Homo sapiens: one gene and its partners. The protein of the gene in region 2 purifies or fractionates together with the protein of the main gene of each other region. This does not show direct contact. Each region holds a gene or a part of one and is shown on either strand. Other genes may lie near its edges.

What was found. The genes of interacting proteins can lie anywhere in the genome.
Region 1: the proteins of CST9L (region 2) and GFPT2 purify together in Homo sapiens (affinity purification with mass spectrometry; one large-scale study listed by BioGRID and IntAct). This does not show direct contact.
Region 3: the proteins of CST9L (region 2) and SLC25A29 purify together in Homo sapiens (affinity purification with mass spectrometry; one large-scale study listed by BioGRID and IntAct). This does not show direct contact.
Region 4: the proteins of CST9L (region 2) and PLXNA3 purify together in Homo sapiens (affinity purification with mass spectrometry; one large-scale study listed by BioGRID and IntAct). This does not show direct contact.

The regions. Positions count from the first base shown.
Region 1 is NC_000005.10:180,303,833-180,308,373, forward strand, and holds part of GFPT2 (glutamine--fructose-6-phosphate aminotransferase [isomerizing] 2), read right to left. Parts: intron 3,472-4,541; coding exon 3,344-3,471; intron 1,108-3,343; coding exon 940-1,107; intron 1-939. UniProt on the Homo sapiens protein: Controls the flux of glucose into the hexosamine pathway. Most likely involved in regulating the availability of precursors for N- and O-linked glycosylation of proteins.
Region 2 is NC_000020.11:23,564,836-23,570,483, forward strand, and holds the start of CST9L (cystatin-9-like precursor), read right to left. Parts: upstream 3,650-5,648; 5' UTR 3,616-3,649; coding exon 3,376-3,615; intron 1,253-3,375; coding exon 1,139-1,252; intron 203-1,138; coding exon 113-202; 3' UTR 1-112.
Region 3 is NC_000014.9:100,289,612-100,293,567, reverse strand, and holds the end of SLC25A29 (mitochondrial basic amino acids transporter), read left to right. Parts: intron 1-190; coding exon 191-274; intron 275-535; coding exon 536-1,285; 3' UTR 1,286-2,452; downstream 2,453-3,956. UniProt on the Homo sapiens protein: Mitochondrial transporter of arginine, lysine, homoarginine, methylarginine and, to a much lesser extent, ornithine and histidine. Does not transport carnitine nor acylcarnitines. Functions by both counter-exchange and uniport mechanisms.
Region 4 is NC_000023.11:154,475,244-154,479,283, forward strand, and holds the end of PLXNA3 (plexin-A3 precursor), read left to right. Parts: 3' UTR 1-2,536; downstream 2,537-4,040. Other genes in the region: EKC/KEOPS complex subunit LAGE3, read right to left, coding at 2,701-2,815, 3,040-3,168, 3,485-3,672. UniProt on the Homo sapiens protein: Coreceptor for SEMA3A and SEMA3F. Necessary for signaling by class 3 semaphorins and subsequent remodeling of the cytoskeleton. Plays a role in axon guidance in the developing nervous system.

The sequences.
Region 1 (4,541 bases), on a different chromosome or scaffold from region 2:
GACTATACCTAACTTTATGCTAAGGTGACGACTCGTGGTGGGCCTGTAGATAGTTCCAGGATGGCGTCTGGCCCTGCTAGAAAGGCCAGCCACATGATTAGAAGGTTGGGGCTTTGAGACATGAGCCTGTCAGTCTGACCTCCCAACCTCCAAGGACAAAAGTGGGGCTGGCGACTGAGTTTGATCACATGGCCAATGGTTCACTCCATCCTGCCTACTTAATAAAACCACAATACAAACTCTGGACACTGGAGCTAGCAGCTCAGGGGAGCTCCCGGGCGACACACAGTGACGTGCTGGGAGGGTGACACATCCTGAGGACACAAGCTTCACATCTGGGGCCCTCAAACTAGGGGTCTCTTCTTTTGGGTTGGCTGTGATTTATATCTTTTATAATAAAACTGTAATCATATAGTCATCTCCTGAGTTCTATGGGTCGTTCTAGAAAATTACTGAACTTCAGGGGAGAGTGGGAATCCTTGGATTCATAGTCAGTTGCTCAGATGTGTGGGTGGACCCCTGGCTTGCAACAGGTGCCTGAATCGAGGGCAGTCTTATGGAAAGCTGTGCCCCTGCCCTATGAGACCTGACCTAACTCCAGGTAGTTCCCATCGGAGCTGCTTGGCCGCAGAACCTGGGGAAACCCTGCCCCAGGGATGTCCACCAGGAGTACCTCCCCTGAGCTCCAGGCTAGGATCTGGTGCTGCTCACAGCAGTGTGGGTCCCTGGGCCCCACCAAAGAGCTGTGTGGGACAGCTGCGGGCTGACCAGCTCCTTTCCAAGTGTGTGCACTCCCCACAGGCGGCCCGGGGGAGGGTGTGTGGTCACAGCCACTCACTGGCCAGACCATCCATCACTGGTACTGGCAGACAGTGGTGAGGTGGGCATGCATGGGGAAAAGCAGGAGAGAGCTGGCCCAGTCCAGTGGAGAGCCCTCACCTGGCGGGCCGTGACTTGCTGCAGGGCGTTCTGGCATTTGGCGAAGCAAGGATCCTTCATAATGACCATGATGACGGGCATCTGCTTGTCAATCAGTGCCAGGGGCCCGTGCTTCAGCTCCCCAGCCAGGATGCCTTCTGAGTGCATGTAGGTTATCTCTTTAATTTTCTGGAAACAGGAGGTGAGATCAGAGTCACACTGGGCAGATGGGGCTGGAGCAGATCAGCCAGAGGGGAAGAAGGGGAACCAGGGGAAGGATGACTCTGGAAGGCAGAGAGCCAAGGGTTGCAAGGCAGACAGATGCCTGGAGTGCTTGACAGCACTGAGGACACCCAGCAAGGGCCTGGGGAGAGGCCTGGCTACCATCCAGAGCATGCACCAGCCCGGGACACAACCTCTGTGTCCCCACACCAGCCCCGGGCACTGCTGTTGTCTCTCTCCAGTCCCACGCACAGCCACCCCTTAGGACAAACAAGTCGGAGTCAGCCTAGCTCACCCCCTGCTCCTCCCTAGCCAGCCACGTGTATAACGACAGCATCGTATTCAGCTTAGCTACACCTTCAGTTAATTATCTGATTAAGCATTTGCCCATTAATAACTTCTAAAGAGTGGTTCCAAGCAAAATCACACAAACTGGGGTGTTATTTGAATTAATTTTTTTCCTGTGTTCAGGTAGATCCATCTCTATTCAGTTACCACAAATCCACGTCATTGAAATGGTGAGACAGTCAAATAAATCATCTCTCGACTCCCCGCTAGCACTGCTGATTTAGGTCAGGGCCACACTGTAAGGAGTGCGGCTCCAGTCTGGAGGCGCAGACAGCTGCAGTGCCGGCCTCCCAGTGACCAGAGGACCATGGGCTCGTGCCAGCAGCCACCTAAACGCTTCTTCCTTCAGCAGACTCATGCGGAGGCATAGCTGCAATGTGCATCTCCCGCCAGCACGTTCAGCCACCGCAGCTCAGCCCCCACCCATGACGCAGAGTCATCTGGGGACTGACAGTGCACCCCAGGCCTTGCCTCTACTGCACTCCAAGAAGCAGCACCTGCCTGTTCTTTAACAGGAGTCAGAATCTCCAGGGGGCAGGTGCAGGAGATGGAGCTCAGTGAGGACAGCCCTGCACTCCCCACCAAGACCAAGGAAATCAACTCTGAATGTTTCCGGTAACCACTTGTAACTGGCATTGTCTTTCTTTTTTTTTTCTTTCTTTCTTTTTTTTTTTTTTCGTTGAGATGGGAGTCTCGTTCTGTCTCCCAGGCTGGAGTGCAGTGGCATGATCTTGGCTCACTGCAACCTCCTCCTCTTGGATTCAAGCGATTCTCCTGCCTCAGCCTCCCATGTAGCTGGGATTACAGGCGTGCACCACCACGCCCAGCTAGTTTTTGAATTTTTGGTAGAGATGGGCTTTTACCATGTTGTCCAGGCTGGTCTCGAACTCCTGACCTCAAATGATCTGACTGCCTTGGCCTCCCAAAGTGCTGGGATTACAGGCGTGGACCACTGTGCCAGCCTAGCATTGTCTTTCAAATGGGGGTGGTGGGGAGGAGATGGGAGAGGATGGCAGCCCAGCTGGGCCACGGTTAATGCCCTCGTCTTGGTGGCCAGTGCAGCCTCAGCTGGAGCACTGTCCCCGTCACCTGGGCTGAGCATCTGCTCCGTGCATGGCATGCTGACAGCGAGGAAAGGGCAAGTCCGAGATGCAGGACCCTGCACGGCTCTCTGCCCACCCTCTGGGCAGCCCTGTGGCCCTGGCACCCTGTCCCTGCCCCATCAGCTTTCTCTTTCCTGGCGTGGATCTTTAATGCTGCAGGGGGCAAATGGCCTGTCACCAATTTTTGAAAAAGCAAGGCCTTCGAAGTTAATTCCTGCAGGATCTCAAACTCCCCTTGGAAGTTTGAGGGGTAACAAGGAAACTCTGCGGAGAACCCACCCCTCAATTTTGGTGGAAAAAAGCGAAGGCCCCATGGACTCAGGTCTGATTCGGGTCCCCTACGTCATCTTGAGTGAGATACTTAAGCTTTCAGAGGCTTTGTTTCCTCCTGAATGAGGGTGAATAGCAACCGCCAACCTCTCAGAAGCAGCTCATGAGGTCTGAGTGAGCTGTTCCAAGTGGACCCTGGCAGTGCCTGGACAGCCGGAGGGGCACACCCCAGGCGCCCTGTCCCTTTCTCCTCAGTAGATTGGGAGATCCCTGGGGGCAGGCACCTGCCTCACCCATCTCTGTGTGCCCAGGGCTAGAAACCTGGTGGAGAGCTGGTGCTCAGCGCAGGCTCACAGGACTGGCCAAGGGGTCCTTAGGCCCGGCCCTCCCCAAGCCCAACGCCCTGCCCTCCTTCCCGCTGGCTCCTCAGGGTCTCCTGTGCCTGTCCTCCGTGGGGGTGGGGGCTGGGGGTGGGGGCTCACCAGGGCTCCTTCCAGGCAGGTGGCATAGTTGTAGCCCCGCCCCATCACCAGCAGCGATCTCTGCGTGTAGAGCTCCAGGGCCAAGTCGTGGATCTTCTCCTCCAGAGACAGCACTTCCTTGATCAGCTCTGGGCCATGCACGGAGCAGAGGGAGAAAACCAGTCAGGCCGACTTTAAAGCAATATTCATGAAGACAAATGCTGGGGTTTAAGAGGAGCTTTTGAAACCGCATCACTTAGCACACTTTGCTTCCTCGCATTCGTTTCAAACGTAGATTACAGGAAATAACTTGGGCTCCTGGCCAGGATTCTGTTAGGATGGGGATTCGTGTTGTGTGAACACTTTCTTGAGCACCAACAAGGTAGGAAGTACCATTTCTCACTCCGTTTTGCAGGTAAGACAACTGAGGCTCAGAGAGGCAAAAATCACCCACTGGAGACAGAGCTGACACCACCAGTTAACACCCCTCTTTCCTGCTGTGTCTCAAGACAAGGCCCCTGTAAGTGGGACCACCGGTTCTCAAACCCTTTGGTCTCAGGACTCCTTTACACTCTTGAAAATTATTGCAAGTCCCTCAAATTATTGCACATCCCCAAGAGCCTTTGTTTTTGAGTTAAATCTGTCAACATTTACCAGATTAGAAAATAACACTGAGGACCAGGCGTGGTGGCTCACGCCTGTAATCGCCGCACTTTGGGAGGCCGAGGCGGGTGGATCATGAGGTCAGGAGATCGAGACCATCCTGGCTAACATGGTAAAACCCCGTCTCTACTAAAAATACAAAAAATTAGCCGGGCGTGGTTGGGTGCGGTGGCTCACGCCTGTAATCCCAGCACTTTGGAAGGCTGGGGCAGGCGGATCACGAGGTCAGGAGATCGAGACCATCCTGGCTAACATGGTGAGACCTGGTATCTACTAAAAATACAAAAAATTAGCCGGGCATGGTGGCGGGCGCCTGTAGTCCCAGCTACTCGGGAGGCTGAGGCAGGAGAGTGGCGTGAACCTGGGAGGCGGAGCTTGCAGTGAGCTGAGATGGCACCACGGCACTCCAGCCTGGGCAACAGAGCGAGACTCCATCTCGAAAAAAAAAAAAGAAGAAAAAGAAAGAAAGAAACTAACAATGAGAAATTTAAAAATATTCACTTTAAAATAACAACACTAAATCTATTACATTACTTCATTTCCAACAAGAATTAGT
Region 2 (5,648 bases):
GATAACAAACAAGTCCAAAGCTGCTCAGCCACTGAAGAGTCCTCAGGAGAGTAGTGCTGATGTCCACGGAATGTGGGAGCAGCACATGGACAAGCCTGTGAGTGGGTTTCACTCAGTGGAATCCCTCCAAGCAGGTCTTGTTCAGGAGGCTGAACTGAGTCATCCAGGGCCTGGTGCTGATGGTGAAGAAGCAGGTGAAAGTCTGAGAGAACAAGCACAGGAAGGGACAGTGGGTGAGGGAGGCTCAGGAAGCTCATGGCTCAAGCTCTGAACAATGGCTTCCTCTCCACATTGCCCTTTCCCAGGTCAAGCAGTGGGAAGACGGGGCCTCTGGCTATCATGTGCTGCCCCCAAGCCTGAGTCCTGGGCTGTTCTGGAGATTTGAGCTGAACTGCAACTCTTTTCTGACCCAGGGGCGCCTGTGCAATGTTCCCCACTCCCTAGCAGTGGCCCTCAGGGGAACCCCGGGCTGTCCTGGTGTGATCCCTGCACCCAAGAGCAGCAGGAGAATGCATTGTCCCAGTGGAAGCAGTTCCCAGATTTAAGCAATCAGCTACCTATTTTTTAATATTACAATAAGGGTGTTGATTAAGCATAGGAAGAGTTTTCCCAGAGCCAGGCTTTACTTGGAGCTTGTCCCCTAGAGCAGGTGCTGCAGCTCAGCTCAGGGCCTGGGAGGGAGGGTAGTGGGGCTCCTTCTCAGCCTCTACCACTTTTGGGTCTAGGGGAGGGTAAGGAAACCCTGAGAACTGCATCCACAGACAGAGGTGATGTCAGATCCCAGGTTCTTCCAGAAGGCAGGGGAGGAAGACCAGAGAGGGGACCACTTCTTACTGGACCCAGGAGACTGGGACCCCAGGGGGAAAGAGCAGTCTGAAGGCCATGTGCCCTGGGTGCAGGCAGCTGCAGTGGCATGACAGGGCAGAGTTGATAAACTCAGATTGGCCAGGAGCCTGCAAGTGGACCCCTAGCTGCCTGCCCCTCTGCGCTCCCCACTAAGGCACAAGCAGGGCAGCCTGGTAGAGGCTGCTGCAGGCTCACTCCTCTAAGTCTCTTTGTCAGTTGCACCTGTGCCCACACCACACCCCATGTGGCATCCACAGCTGTATCCAGGAGGGAAGCTGGTGTCCTGTCTTACATTGTTCAGCTCTGTGCTTTCTTGGAAATGGCAGTTGTCAATGTCGTCTTCAAATTTCCCACACCTAGTTCTCCCCAGCAGTAGCTCCATTGAGAATACAGTCTTGGACTCCACCTATTGCACACAGAGAGATTAATGTGAACACACCCTCCTTGTTGCCCCTAAGTAGCTGCTGGTGAAGATGTCATTTGTGTAGGAGAAGTCCCAACATTCTCCTCCATTAGGGAGCTTGCCCATGGGCCTGGCATCAGGAGATCTTCTTTAGATTGGGCAGTTAAGAACAAAAAGCGGATGGGCATGGTGGCCCCAGGGCAGACACCCATGAATGTATCCCTATTTCCAGATGCACTTCCCACTCTCCCATGGTGAGACCCCAGTTTCACTCTCAGTCAGTGTCTGAACCTGCAGCTGCATTTCCAGAGGATGGCGCTATGTGCCTGGGGAGGGGTTTGGCTCTCCAAGAGCTTTCAGGGTAACCTCAGCCCTGGGACAGAGGGAGCCTCATCTAGGGCATGTTGTCAAACCTTCCACCTGACCTGAGGAAAAAAAAAATGCAAGAATGCCACCCAGCACTCCCACTACACACAGGCATACATCCTTGGGACAATGGCTTCAAGAAACACCATCTGGGGCCGGGTGTGGTGGCTCACACCTGTAATCCCAGCACTTTTGGAGGCTGGGGTGGGTGAATAATGAGGTCGGGAGTTCGAGACCAGCCTGGCCAACATGGTGAAAACCCATCTCTACTAAAAATACAAAAGTTAGCTGGGCATGGTGGCAGGTGCTTGTAATCCCAGCTACTCGGGAGGGAGGCTGAGGCAGGAGAATTGTTTGAACCCGGGAGGCAGAGGTTGCAGGGAGCTGAGATTGTGCCATTGCACTCCAGCCTGGTTGACAGGGTGAGACTCCATATCAAAAGAAAGAAAGAAAGAAAGAAACACCATCTGCCCTATTGCAAAGTGCACCTTGATCTTCTCACTCCTTTCAGTTTCACTTCATTCCATCTCCTTTCTCCCTATCCGTCCATTTCCCCAACTCCAAAACTGACTCTGGAATTGTCACATCCAGGAACCCACGTGGCAGGCTCCAGCCCAGAGAGCAGGGGTCAGAGAACCAGCCAGGGCCTTGCACAGGGTCTTTCCAGAGGCTGAAGCTTGGTGCAGGGTTGGGGTCCTTTTGCTCTTCTTGCAAGGTTTCAGTAATGAGGTAGGAAGAGCATTTTTGCCTCTCTACCCAACTAGAAGTCCTCAACTTAGCTGGGTGCAGTGGCTCATGCCTGTAATCCCAGCACTTTGGGAGGCCGAGGTGGGCAGATCATGAGGTCAGGAGTTCAAGACCAGCCTGGCCAACATAGTGAAACCCTGTCTCTACTAAAAATACAAAAAATTAACCAGGCATCTGGCGGGTGCCTGTAATCCCAGTTATTTGGGAGGCTGAGGCAGGAGAATCACTTGAACCTGGGAGGCGGATCTTGCAGTGAGCGGAGATGACGCCACTGTACTCTAGCCTGGGTGACAGAGCAAGATTCCATCTCAAAAAAAAAAAAAAAAAAAAGTCCTCAACTTGGTGACTATTTTCATTGTTCATGCCTACAGCACAGATGAACTGTGCATTCCTGATTGCATTCTGTAGTGACTTCATTAAAAGGAGAACATTTAGGATTAAGACCTGTGGTCTGAGGAAGAGTGTGAAACAGTCTTCAGTTTATTAAGTGCAGACACACCAAGGAGCTCAGAGAAGTTGGAAATCAGCAAAGAGGAACTGACCACCCAGAGGTCTTTTGGGACTGGTGGGGGTTTCTTATTGCTCCTGAACCCTTACTGTTCTCTTTTTTAATTTTCATTTTTTAAATTATCTCTTTTTTATTACATTTTTTGGAAGTATTTCTCAATTTCTCTCTATTCACATTTTCTGTTCAGCCCTTTTCCTTATTCCGTATCTTCATTTTCTTGGTAGTCCTCATTTTGAAGTCATTCTTCAGTTAAATAATGTCATAAAAAGATGGAGATTAAACAATATGTTTTTCATGAGAGTTGATTAGGATCAAATTATTTGAAATTTCTAACTTAGATGTTTTCAAAATCAAAAACTAACTAAACTACCTTGTATTTTCTTAAGTATGGACTACAACTGGTGAACAAGACTCTTCAATAAGACCCCCTGTCCCCACCCCACTCCCATTTTTCACTGAGCAGCACATGCCAGATGCCAGGGCAGGAGGGTACGTGGTCACCAACCTGCTCCTTCCAGGAATTCAAGATGTGCCCCAGTCTGTAGGCATAGTAGTCCTTGCTCTGTTGGTTGAATGTGTGGACAGCAAACTCCACTGTGGCAGGGAGGTAACGAGCCATGACATTGTGTTCATCACAGTCCCTTTGCTCGTGGAAATGCCAGGCATAGATCAGCAGGATCTGGGAGCCTAAGAGAAGCAGCAGCAGCGCCCAGGACAGACCTCCCTTCCACGGCAGGCCCAGCATGGTGCTGACTGTAGGCACCGCTGACTTTGCTCTTCCCAGCCCCCGTGCCCACAGGAGTTAATTGAGCACAGACCCAGCCCTTAATCTTATCTGCTCAGACAGCCCTGTGGGACAAACTTGTCTCACCCCACACTGGCAACAGGCACTCCTACAGGACAGGAAGGACAGGATCCTGGATTAAAGGGAGGCAGCTCTGGATGTGGAGTCACTCATCTGCCATCCTTCTGCCCTATACTCTCTAGGCCAGCACAAGCCACAGGCAGGAGGGGAGCTACCCTCTGCCACTAGCTTTGAAGGCTGCTCCTTCAGAACCCACAGGTTCTGGTTGTCCTCAGGTGCTTGGTGTCCTTGGATGATTCTGTGCCTTCGCCTCCCACAGCGAACTGAGATAAGACCTGGGGACATCTCGACTCTCACTCTCCCCTCCTTCACCCCGTCGAAGAGAGGATCTCCGTTGTTCAGAAAAATAACTAAGATATCAGTTTGTTCTTTTGTTGTATAATACCTCAACAGTTGTACTCTGTGAACCAAGGGAAAAAATGAAAAAAATAAATGGCAATTTTTATCAACCATTTTGACCTGGGATGGACAATGAGTATTGTGAGAAAAGGGCAGGAAAGACAGAGACCCAAGTCCTGAGGCCCCAGCCTGGTCATGCCCAGCCCAGCCCTGCTTGCATTTCTAAACCTTGTCAGCCCTGGTTCCAGCTGAGCCAGAGCCAAGGTTTCTACAGGGCCCACCGCCCTACATCTGCAGCCCCACCACACACACTCATGTTTTATTAGACTGGAATATCATTCTAGACCAAATTTTTAAACACTTCTCTGGGAGATCACATGTTTCTGCCTCAGTGAGATAGAGGTTGGACCATTCTTCAGCCCCTTGATCATTTTTGTCTCCATCTGACCATCCTTCTTGGTGTTCTAGAGTGAGCTATTTTGCCAGCACTTAGGTGATACTAGGTGGTTACTTTTAAATCAATTTCCTGGCAATAACTAACCTGAAAGAGGAAATAATAATATTTTGTTGCTGTAAGAATGAACATTAAATAGTGCAGGACAGGTGAAGTATGCAAAAGTGAGAGCTTTGAGTTTGGCTGAGAAGACTATGGTGCTGCAATATAGGCAAGAACCTAGCATTGTTGCCAGATAACAGAATAGAAAGTTCAGTCCCAAGTCAGGGAGACTGATTCTACAAGAACTGTTCTGACTGTGTCCCATACCATGTTCCCAGATCACAGCAGGGCCAGGCCTGGGAAGAGCATCACTGCATCTGTCCACACTAGCACAGCACTGGCCAGGTCAAGACAGCTGCAGGTGAAGAGAGTCATGCTGCCTGACCCAACACTGGGGTGGTCCCGAGTGTCTCCTCACAGGAGACTTCACCCATCACAGACAGAAGAAAGTAGCTAGTGTGTGGGGAGCTGCTGCCCAGGAGCCATGTGCATCTTGATCTTCTGCCTTGACTCCAGGAAGTGGGTGACACAGAGTAGCTGAAACCTGTGTCCTGATTAGCAATGATAACAGGTGAAATCTGGCCCATTGCGTTGTTTCATGGGTTGTTTTTTTTTTTTTTTTTGACGGAATCTCTGTTGCCCAGGCTTGAGTGCGGTGGTGTGATCTTGGCTCACTGCTGCAACCTCCGCCTCCCAGGTTCAAGAGATTCTCCTGCCTCAGCCTCCTGAGTAGCTGAGATTACAGGCGTGTTGCACCATGCCCGGCTAATTCTTTGTGTTTTTAGTAGAGATGGGGTTTTGCCATGTAGGCCAAGCTGGTCTCGAACTTTCCTGGCCTCAAGTGGTCCTCCCACCTCAGCCTCCTAATGTGCTGGGATTACAGGCATGAGCTACTGTGTCCAGCCCCCATTGCACTGTCGAAATGTCACTGGTCTTCTGGATCACACCCAGCTGACCCATTCTTCTCATATTTATTTAACCTTGGCAAACAAACAGCTCAACCACACAACTATTTGCAAAATTATTTGTGAGATCTACTGGGTTGTGAAAGATTTTCACATGAGAAAGATTTTCAATC
Region 3 (3,956 bases), on a different chromosome or scaffold from region 2:
GCCTACTGGCACCCCATCCTGAGAAGGCATAGATACCCGGCCCACCCTGCCCTGGAATTACAAAAGTCTTAGACTGTGCCTGAGTGCCCGGCCTCCTTGGGAGACCCTCCTAGGCAGCCTAAGCACCAGACCCGGGAGCTGGGTGCTCTGGTCCTGCCTGCCTGCCTCTCACTGGACCCTCTCCTTCCAGGTACGGCTTCAGGTCCAGAGCGTGGAGAAGCCTCAGTACCGCGGGACGTTGCACTGCTTCAAGTCCATCATCAAGCAAGAGAGCGTGAGTGGCCTGGGCTGGTGGGGCTCGGGAGGCACAGGATGGGGAACTAGCTTCCGGGCTGCCACCACCCCAGACCAGAGAGCCAGGAAGGAAGGTGTCAGGACGACCAGGAGGCCAGTCAGGACCTAGGTTCTAACGAAATTCTGCTTGGTCCTCAGGAGCCCCTGGGGTGGGCTGGGGCTGCCATCCCCCGACCCCCTTCCGCGTGGAGGGCCCGGGAGGTGCGCGTTGCCGGCTCTGATGGCGTCTCTGTCCCCGCAGGTGCTGGGCCTGTACAAGGGCCTGGGCTCGCCGCTCATGGGGCTCACCTTCATCAACGCGCTGGTGTTCGGGGTGCAGGGCAACACCCTCCGGGCCCTGGGCCACGACTCGCCCCTCAACCAGTTCCTGGCAGGTGCGGCGGCGGGCGCCATCCAGTGCGTCATCTGCTGCCCCATGGAGCTGGCCAAGACGCGGCTGCAGCTGCAGGACGCGGGCCCAGCGCGCACCTACAAGGGCTCGCTGGACTGCCTCGCGCAGATCTACGGGCACGAGGGTCTGCGTGGCGTCAACCGGGGCATGGTGTCCACGTTGCTGCGTGAGACGCCCAGCTTCGGCGTCTACTTCCTCACCTATGACGCTCTCACGCGGGCGCTGGGCTGCGAGCCGGGCGACCGCCTGCTGGTGCCCAAGCTGCTGTTGGCGGGCGGTACGTCAGGCATCGTGTCCTGGCTCTCTACCTATCCTGTGGACGTGGTCAAGTCGCGGCTGCAGGCGGACGGACTGCGGGGCGCCCCGCGCTACCGCGGCATCCTGGACTGCGTGCACCAGAGCTACCGCGCCGAGGGCTGGCGCGTCTTCACACGGGGGCTGGCGTCCACGCTGCTGCGCGCCTTCCCCGTCAACGCTGCCACCTTCGCCACCGTCACGGTGGTGCTCACCTACGCGCGCGGCGAGGAGGCCGGGCCCGAGGGCGAGGCTGTGCCCGCCGCCCCTGCGGGGCCTGCCCTGGCGCAGCCCTCCAGCCTGTGACGCTCACCCCGCCCTCCTTCCCCAGGGCTCCTTCTCAGAAACCTGGGACATAAATTGGCCCCTGAGTCGATTGCCCTGCTTCCTGCTGGGATGCTGCGAGCTGTGGAGTCTATCAGACGTGGGCTGAATTTTGCTGATCAGCTGGGTAGTTTTGGCCGAGAACTGCACTTGCCTCAGTGTTCTCATCTATGAAATAAGGACCCTCATGCCCACACTGTAGAGTCACGAAGCTCAGAGATTATTCCCAGCAGCAGCCAGCACCTGGCCTGGCTGAGGCCATTGCACCGTTATCCTGGAAACTGAGGCAGACACTCCAGCCCCTTTCTGGGATCCTGGCCACGTCATTGTGCTCCTGCCCTGCAGGCTGGCTCCCGGGGGTCTCTGATGGCCAACCAAGGGGCCACCCAGGGACCTCTAACTCCACACATCCTCCACCCGGGGGGGTGGTGGGCCACCCCTCTGGTCTGTGTTAGGGACAGAGGAAAACTTGGTGTGCCTCCTGGTGTCACAGAACTGGATCCTCTGCATACCCCAGCTTCTCCACATGCCACTGCTAGGGGTACCCCAGCTGCTGCCACTCCTGCTGGAGGGTGAACTGGGGACCCTGCACCCTCCGGGAAGCCATGGAGTCTGCTGGAGGCACCATATCAGCCTGCGGGACTAGGGTGGGGAGCAAACAGGCCAGCGGTGGAGGTCTGGACAGTTCAAGTGTGATGCAGCTGTGGCAAGGAGAAATCCTTCCGCCTCTGGGCCTCAGGCTGCCTGTCCATAAAATGGGGACATGGCCAGCTGACGGACAACTGAGTCTCCGGCCCACCTACCACCGCCAGCCAGGATCCCCCAAAGTGTGCAGAGGGCTCAGCAGAGAACAGTATGGGACCCCCTCACCAGGCCTGGAACACCTCCAGCCACAAAGAAGCCAAAGGTCAGTCCCTCTGCTCCCCAGCAAACGGTGCCTCCCAGGCATTCTCAGTGCCAGGGCTTCATCCCTGTGAAGGCACAGGGCCTGCTAGTGGGCACAGGGGTGGCTAGTTGGGGCCTGGGGCAGAGGAGGGCTGCACCAGGCGTCCTGGGGAATGTGCTCAGTGAAGACGACACTGGGCTTTGCACAGCCTGGTGTCGCTGTACAGAAACTGTCAAGGGAATAAAGTGTTCTTTGTTTTTTAAGTGGCGAGGCTGCCTTTGCATATGGTGGAGGAAAGGGCTTCATTCAGCACCCTTGCCCTGGAGTCGAAGGGGCCAGCTCAGGGGTGCGTGTGCCCTTGGACCCTGACAGCAGCCTTGGCCATGTGACCTGGGCAGTTGCGGATACATCTGAGAGCCTGTTTTCTCATCTGCAAGGCAAGCTAATGAAGGGCGTGAACACGCTGGTGCAGCCTGGCCATTCAGCAGATGCCCCTCTGCTATCATCATCCCAGCAATGAGAGAGAGAGGCCTGTGGTGAGGGGCACTGGCGGGCGGGGCAGCAGGGGCAGGGTGTGTCCCAAAAACAGCTTCCTGGAAGAGGGGAGGTCTGAGTGGAGCTGACCATTTCAGCCACCCGGGCAACTTGGGCACAACTGTACTTAACCCAAACTAGGAGGTCAGAGAGGGCTTCCTGGAAGAGGGCATCCTGGAGCTTTGCCAAAGGTGTGGTGTGGGGGTCTCACTGCCCACCTCACCTGCAGTTCTGTTCAGCCTCCTGGAGTCAGCCCTTGGCATCCTGAGCCTCTGCAGCCACCAGCCCTGGAGGCTTTCCCTCCCAAGTGCTGAGCCAAGAAGCTCTGCCCACTGACAAGGGGGAGTCGGGGAGGGGCCCCAGTTCCTGTGCCTGTTTAACCCTAGTGCTAGCCTGGGAAGTTGGGCTTTACAGGGAGGCAGGAGGCGGGGAGGAAGCTGGCTGTTGACCCCTGGGGTCTCCTGGCCTCTCTCGCTTCTCTTTACTCTGAAATAAACCAGGGGAAGCTCCCAGGGATGGGGGAAACACCCTGGCCATGGGCACAGAGAGGGGCCCCTTCCCTAGCTCCTCCATGTCCAGCTTTGGCAGCCCCTTTGCCTCTCTAGGCCTGGGTGGCTGAATCTCTCAGGGCAGCTTGAGTGTGGCCTGTGGCTGTGGTCCCCATCACCCTGGATCTCTCCACACATCTGCACTCTCTAGAAAGGCCCCAACGTGACCCTTGTCAGGAACTAATTTGAGCCCTGCTCACCCTGGGGCTTCTCCACGAACCCTGCGGCTGCCTGCCCTCTGGGGACAGCACACAGACAGGCCAGCCCTTCAGAAGTGAGGAGTGGTGCGGCAAGGAGCAAGGTGAAGGGGCGGGGGGCTTCTAGCTCCCTCCCACTTCCCAGTTCAGCGGCCTCACATGACCAACACATCTGCCAGGCAGGGAGTAGAGTTGTTGTTTTTAATGAATTTATTTTACATTTTCTTTTCTCCCTGATTTGAACTTTTTTTTTTTTTTTTTTTTGAGTCTTGCTCTGTTGCCCAGGCTGGAGTGCAGTGGTGCTCTTTCAGCTCACTGCAACCTCTACCTCCCGGGTTCAAGTGATTCTTCTGCCTCAGCCTCCAAGTAACTGGGATTACAGGCGTGCACCACCACACCTGGCAAATGTTTCTATTTTTATTAGAGACAGGGTTTCACCATCTTGACCAGGCTGGTCTCAAACTCCTGACCTCAAGTGATCCACCCGC
Region 4 (4,040 bases), on a different chromosome or scaffold from region 2:
GGCATGTGCCACCACGCCCAGCTAATTTTGTATTTTTAGTAGACACAGGGTTTCTCCATGTTGGTCAGGCTGGTCTCGAGCTCCCGACCTCAGGTGATCCGCCCGCCTCAGCCTCCCAAAGTGCTGGGATTACAGGCATGAGCCACTGTTCCTGGCCTTTCTTCTTTTTTTGTTTTTGTTTTTTTTTGAGATGCAATTTTAAATAGGGTGGCTTGGACAGCCACCTGAGTTGGGTTTAAAAGCTGCCAGCTCCAGCCGTCCAGCTGTGGGGCCACGGTGCCAGACAGTGGTGGTGGTTATAGGACCGTAGGTGTTTACCAAAACTAGACAAGTCCACATAACAACCAACTGCACAAATAAGGAGTAAAATAATAAAGAGAAGGACGTGTGAGGCAGGACTGGATTGTAGCCCAGGATAAAGAGAAGTTGCGGGATGACAGCTGTGCCGTCGGCCCAGACAGAACCATCTGGACAGAGGACAGAGGATAAGGGAGATGGTTGAAAATACTACCATCATATGATAATGACAACTAAGCCACAGGAAAACAAGGCAGTTTTAACCTCAGGGGAAATCCCTCAGAAATGGATGGAATCTACCAGAAGCATCATGAGAGGAAGAGGAAGGGAAACAGAGCTAAATTGGGGCCAGGTGTGGTGGCTCGCACTTGTCATCCCAGCACTTTTGGAGGCCCAGGCGGGAAGATCACTGGAGCCCAGGAGTTCAGGACCAGCCTGGGCAACAAAGCGAGATCCCCTCTCTACAAAAAATAAAAAACTAGCCAGGCATGGTGGTGCATGCCTGTGGTCCCAGTTACTCAGGAGGCTGAGGTGCTGGGGAACAAGGCTGCAGTGAGCTGTGATTGTGCCAGCCTAGGTGACAGAGCCAGACCCTGTATCAAAAAAAATAATAATAATTAAAAAACAAAAGATCGGCTGGGCGCGGTGGCTCATGCCTGTAATCCCAGCACTTTGGGAGGCTGAGGTGGGTGGACCACCTGAGGTCGGGAGTTCGAGACCAGCCTCACCAACATGGAGAAACCCTGTGTCTACTAAAAATACAAAATTAGCTGGGCGTGGTGGTGCATGCCTGTAATTCTAGCTACTTGGGAGGCTGAGGCAGGAGAATTCACTTGAACCCGGGAAGTGGAGGTTGCGGTGAGCCAAGATCGCACCATTGCACTCCAGCCTGGGCAACAAGAGTGAAACACTGTCTCAAAAAAAAAAAAAAAAAGTGAAAGATCTAAATTGTCAACTATTCGTCAATAATTAATGTCTAAAAAATATTAAGAAAGGAAGAAAGGAATGAGAGCAAAAGAGAGGGAGAGAGGAAAGTGTCATCTTCATAAGCTGAAGGCCAGTGCCACCGTCACCACTGGCAGAGCTCCCCAGATTCTACAAAGGGAAACTGTTCCTCCATATGGAGTAATAGGGACTGGATATGTCATGCCAAATGAAAGAACACGCCAAACCAGACAAAATATATGGAATGCAGAGTATTAAAAAACTGGCTGTGGGCCAGTGAGGGACAGCGACGTGTGGGAGCTGGGAAACAAGGTAAGCCATGCGACTGGCCCAGTGTCCTGTGTGGAGTTTCCTGGTGGAGCCTGGCAGACACCCGGACTTTAGGAGTTGAAACTGATTCAGAGCGTCCCAGCAGCTGGAGTTTGCAGGGCGGAGAACCAGAGAGAAGAGAGCTGCACAGGGAAAGAACCCTGGATATCCACAGAGGCTCCCGTTCCAGTGTGCAGCGGACTACGACTACTGGTGAGCACAGGCGTGTGAGGAAGCTACCCAAGACCAGGGAAGGCCATCACCCCAGCAGGAGAGGATGAACGGTAACTCCAGTGTGCAAGCAGGACAGGGACTAGCAGCTGTCCCCACCCACCAGGATAGAGAAGCTCATGTTCACCTAGGCAGCACTGGCCAGGGTGCCCAGAATGGTGTTTGTTGCCTCCATAGAGGGAAACAAGCCTACAGTTAAGAGCTGCTCTGGTCCCACACAGCACATCTTCAAAGCAAGACTCAAAAGGATCAAACCATTTCCTTGTTTTCTGAGAATAAAAGCAGTTGTACCTCTTCCTTTTCACTCTCAGAAAATCTGATAGAATCTATAAAAGAGCCCTAAGGCTGGAGACACTGTATTTTCCAGGGAGCCAACTCCTTGCCCCAGACACTAGTCAATTGCCCCAGCACTTTCTTCACTGATCGTTAGAGGAAAAAAGCTCATGTTAGATTTAAAAATCAGGAAAAAAATTTAACACTAAACTTGCAAATATTATGTGGTGTATATTACAGTTACACATTTACTATGTAAGTGCAACTGTAAAACTGAGGAAGTATTCCAAAATGTTGACAGTAGTTAATCCTGAATGACAGAACCCAATTGATTTTCATTTTCTTCCATTTCCTAAATTGTCTTCAATTTCCTTGTACTCCTTGAATATCTGAATTCTAGAACCCCCCCCCCAGCAACCCAAGCACAACAAGAATATTGGGAGGTGCCCCAGCTGCAAATAAACTCAGACTTGGAATAGTAGCGCAGTTTTATTTTCTGTAGTAACAAACATTTAAGAACCAGATAAAACATGAGGCCCTCCCAGGAAAGTAGCAACTGTGGGAATTCCTGCCCTAGGGAAGGATGGACGCACTGCCTACAAGGAGACGCAAAGTGGGACCTCGCTCCATTTGCCCAGGCCAGGCTTAGCGGGAAACGGGGGGCCCAAAGCGCTGCATGGTCCGCACCACCAGGGAAAGCTGGTCAAGAAAGTTGATGACGGAAATTCGGAGCAGGCGACAGTCTTCAGCTTTCCAGCGGCTAAAAGTGAGGGGAAAAGAAAATCAAATTGGAGGTGGCAACTCCTGGTCCCTCGCTCTGCCCCTCAGGCACCCAATATAGCAAACCCTTGGGAGCCCTGCCATTACACAGCCCCTCAGGCAGAGACCGGCCCAGCGCACCTGGCGCTCCTTAGGGCTCATCCTTGGATGTCCCCCATGTCTCCATGGGCCGCCTCCCCCAACCCCGTCCCTTTCAGAACTTACACGACCAGGATCCTGCCACTCACTGTGAGATCCTTCCCAACCACCCTTTGGTGGGGCTCGGCATCTGGTGCCAGGGACCCATGGGCGATTTCCGCCTCCAAGGGGGTCGGGAAAGGCACGCTGAGGGTGCTGGGGGTCATTCGGTTAAGGTGCCATCTGATACGATCTTGCCTATGTCTCAGGCCTTCTTGCTCCTCTGAAGCCCCCTCTCAGGTCACCCTGCCTAGTGTCACCCCCTTCACTCCTTACCTCGCCCAGGCCACCGTTAGCAGAGCTTCTCCCTCCATTTCAATGTCTTCCCCTCCTCCGACCACCTCTGACCGTATACGCCAGCCCCGGTCCCCCCCTGCTACCCTTTCCGTCGGCCCCCCGCCCGCCCTCCTTTCCTTCTCCCCGAGTCCAGCCCTCGCTCCGCCGCAAGCAGCCCCCAGCTCGGAAAGGATACAATATGTGCGGCCGCATTCGTGACCCCCTGGCCGCAGACGCGGCGTCTCTGCCCGGACCTGGCGCGTGCGCTGGGGGAGCTCCACCGGCCGGAGCTGCGGCTGTGTCCACGCCCCCGCGGCAGCTGTGGCCACCCCGGCCATCCCCGCCGTCAGCGCCTCCGCCTGCGTCTGCATCCGCGTCCCGCATGACCGCCGCCGCGCCGCTCCGACTCCACCCCCGAAGCGCAGGTCCTACGCCCCGCCCTCTCTGTGGCTCCTTCCCGAAGCCCCGCCCCCTGCGCACGACTCCGCCCACACGCGCCTGCGCAGGTCCCTGGAGAGCCTGACTGGCGCGTGGTCAGTTCCCGCCAAGCGGCCCTGCCGGGGGCCTTCTGAGACCCGGTCAGCGGTTGAGAGGCTGCGGTTTCCTCCAGAAACTCTGCCCTTTCGCGCGTAACTCGATTCCAGAGCGCTGGTGCAAACTGACCCACAGTCGGTCCGGCCCCAGGAAGCCAACCCTGACGGGGCTTTTGAAGACACCGTGGTCGCCTATCCCAGAGGCGCACCCCGCGAGGC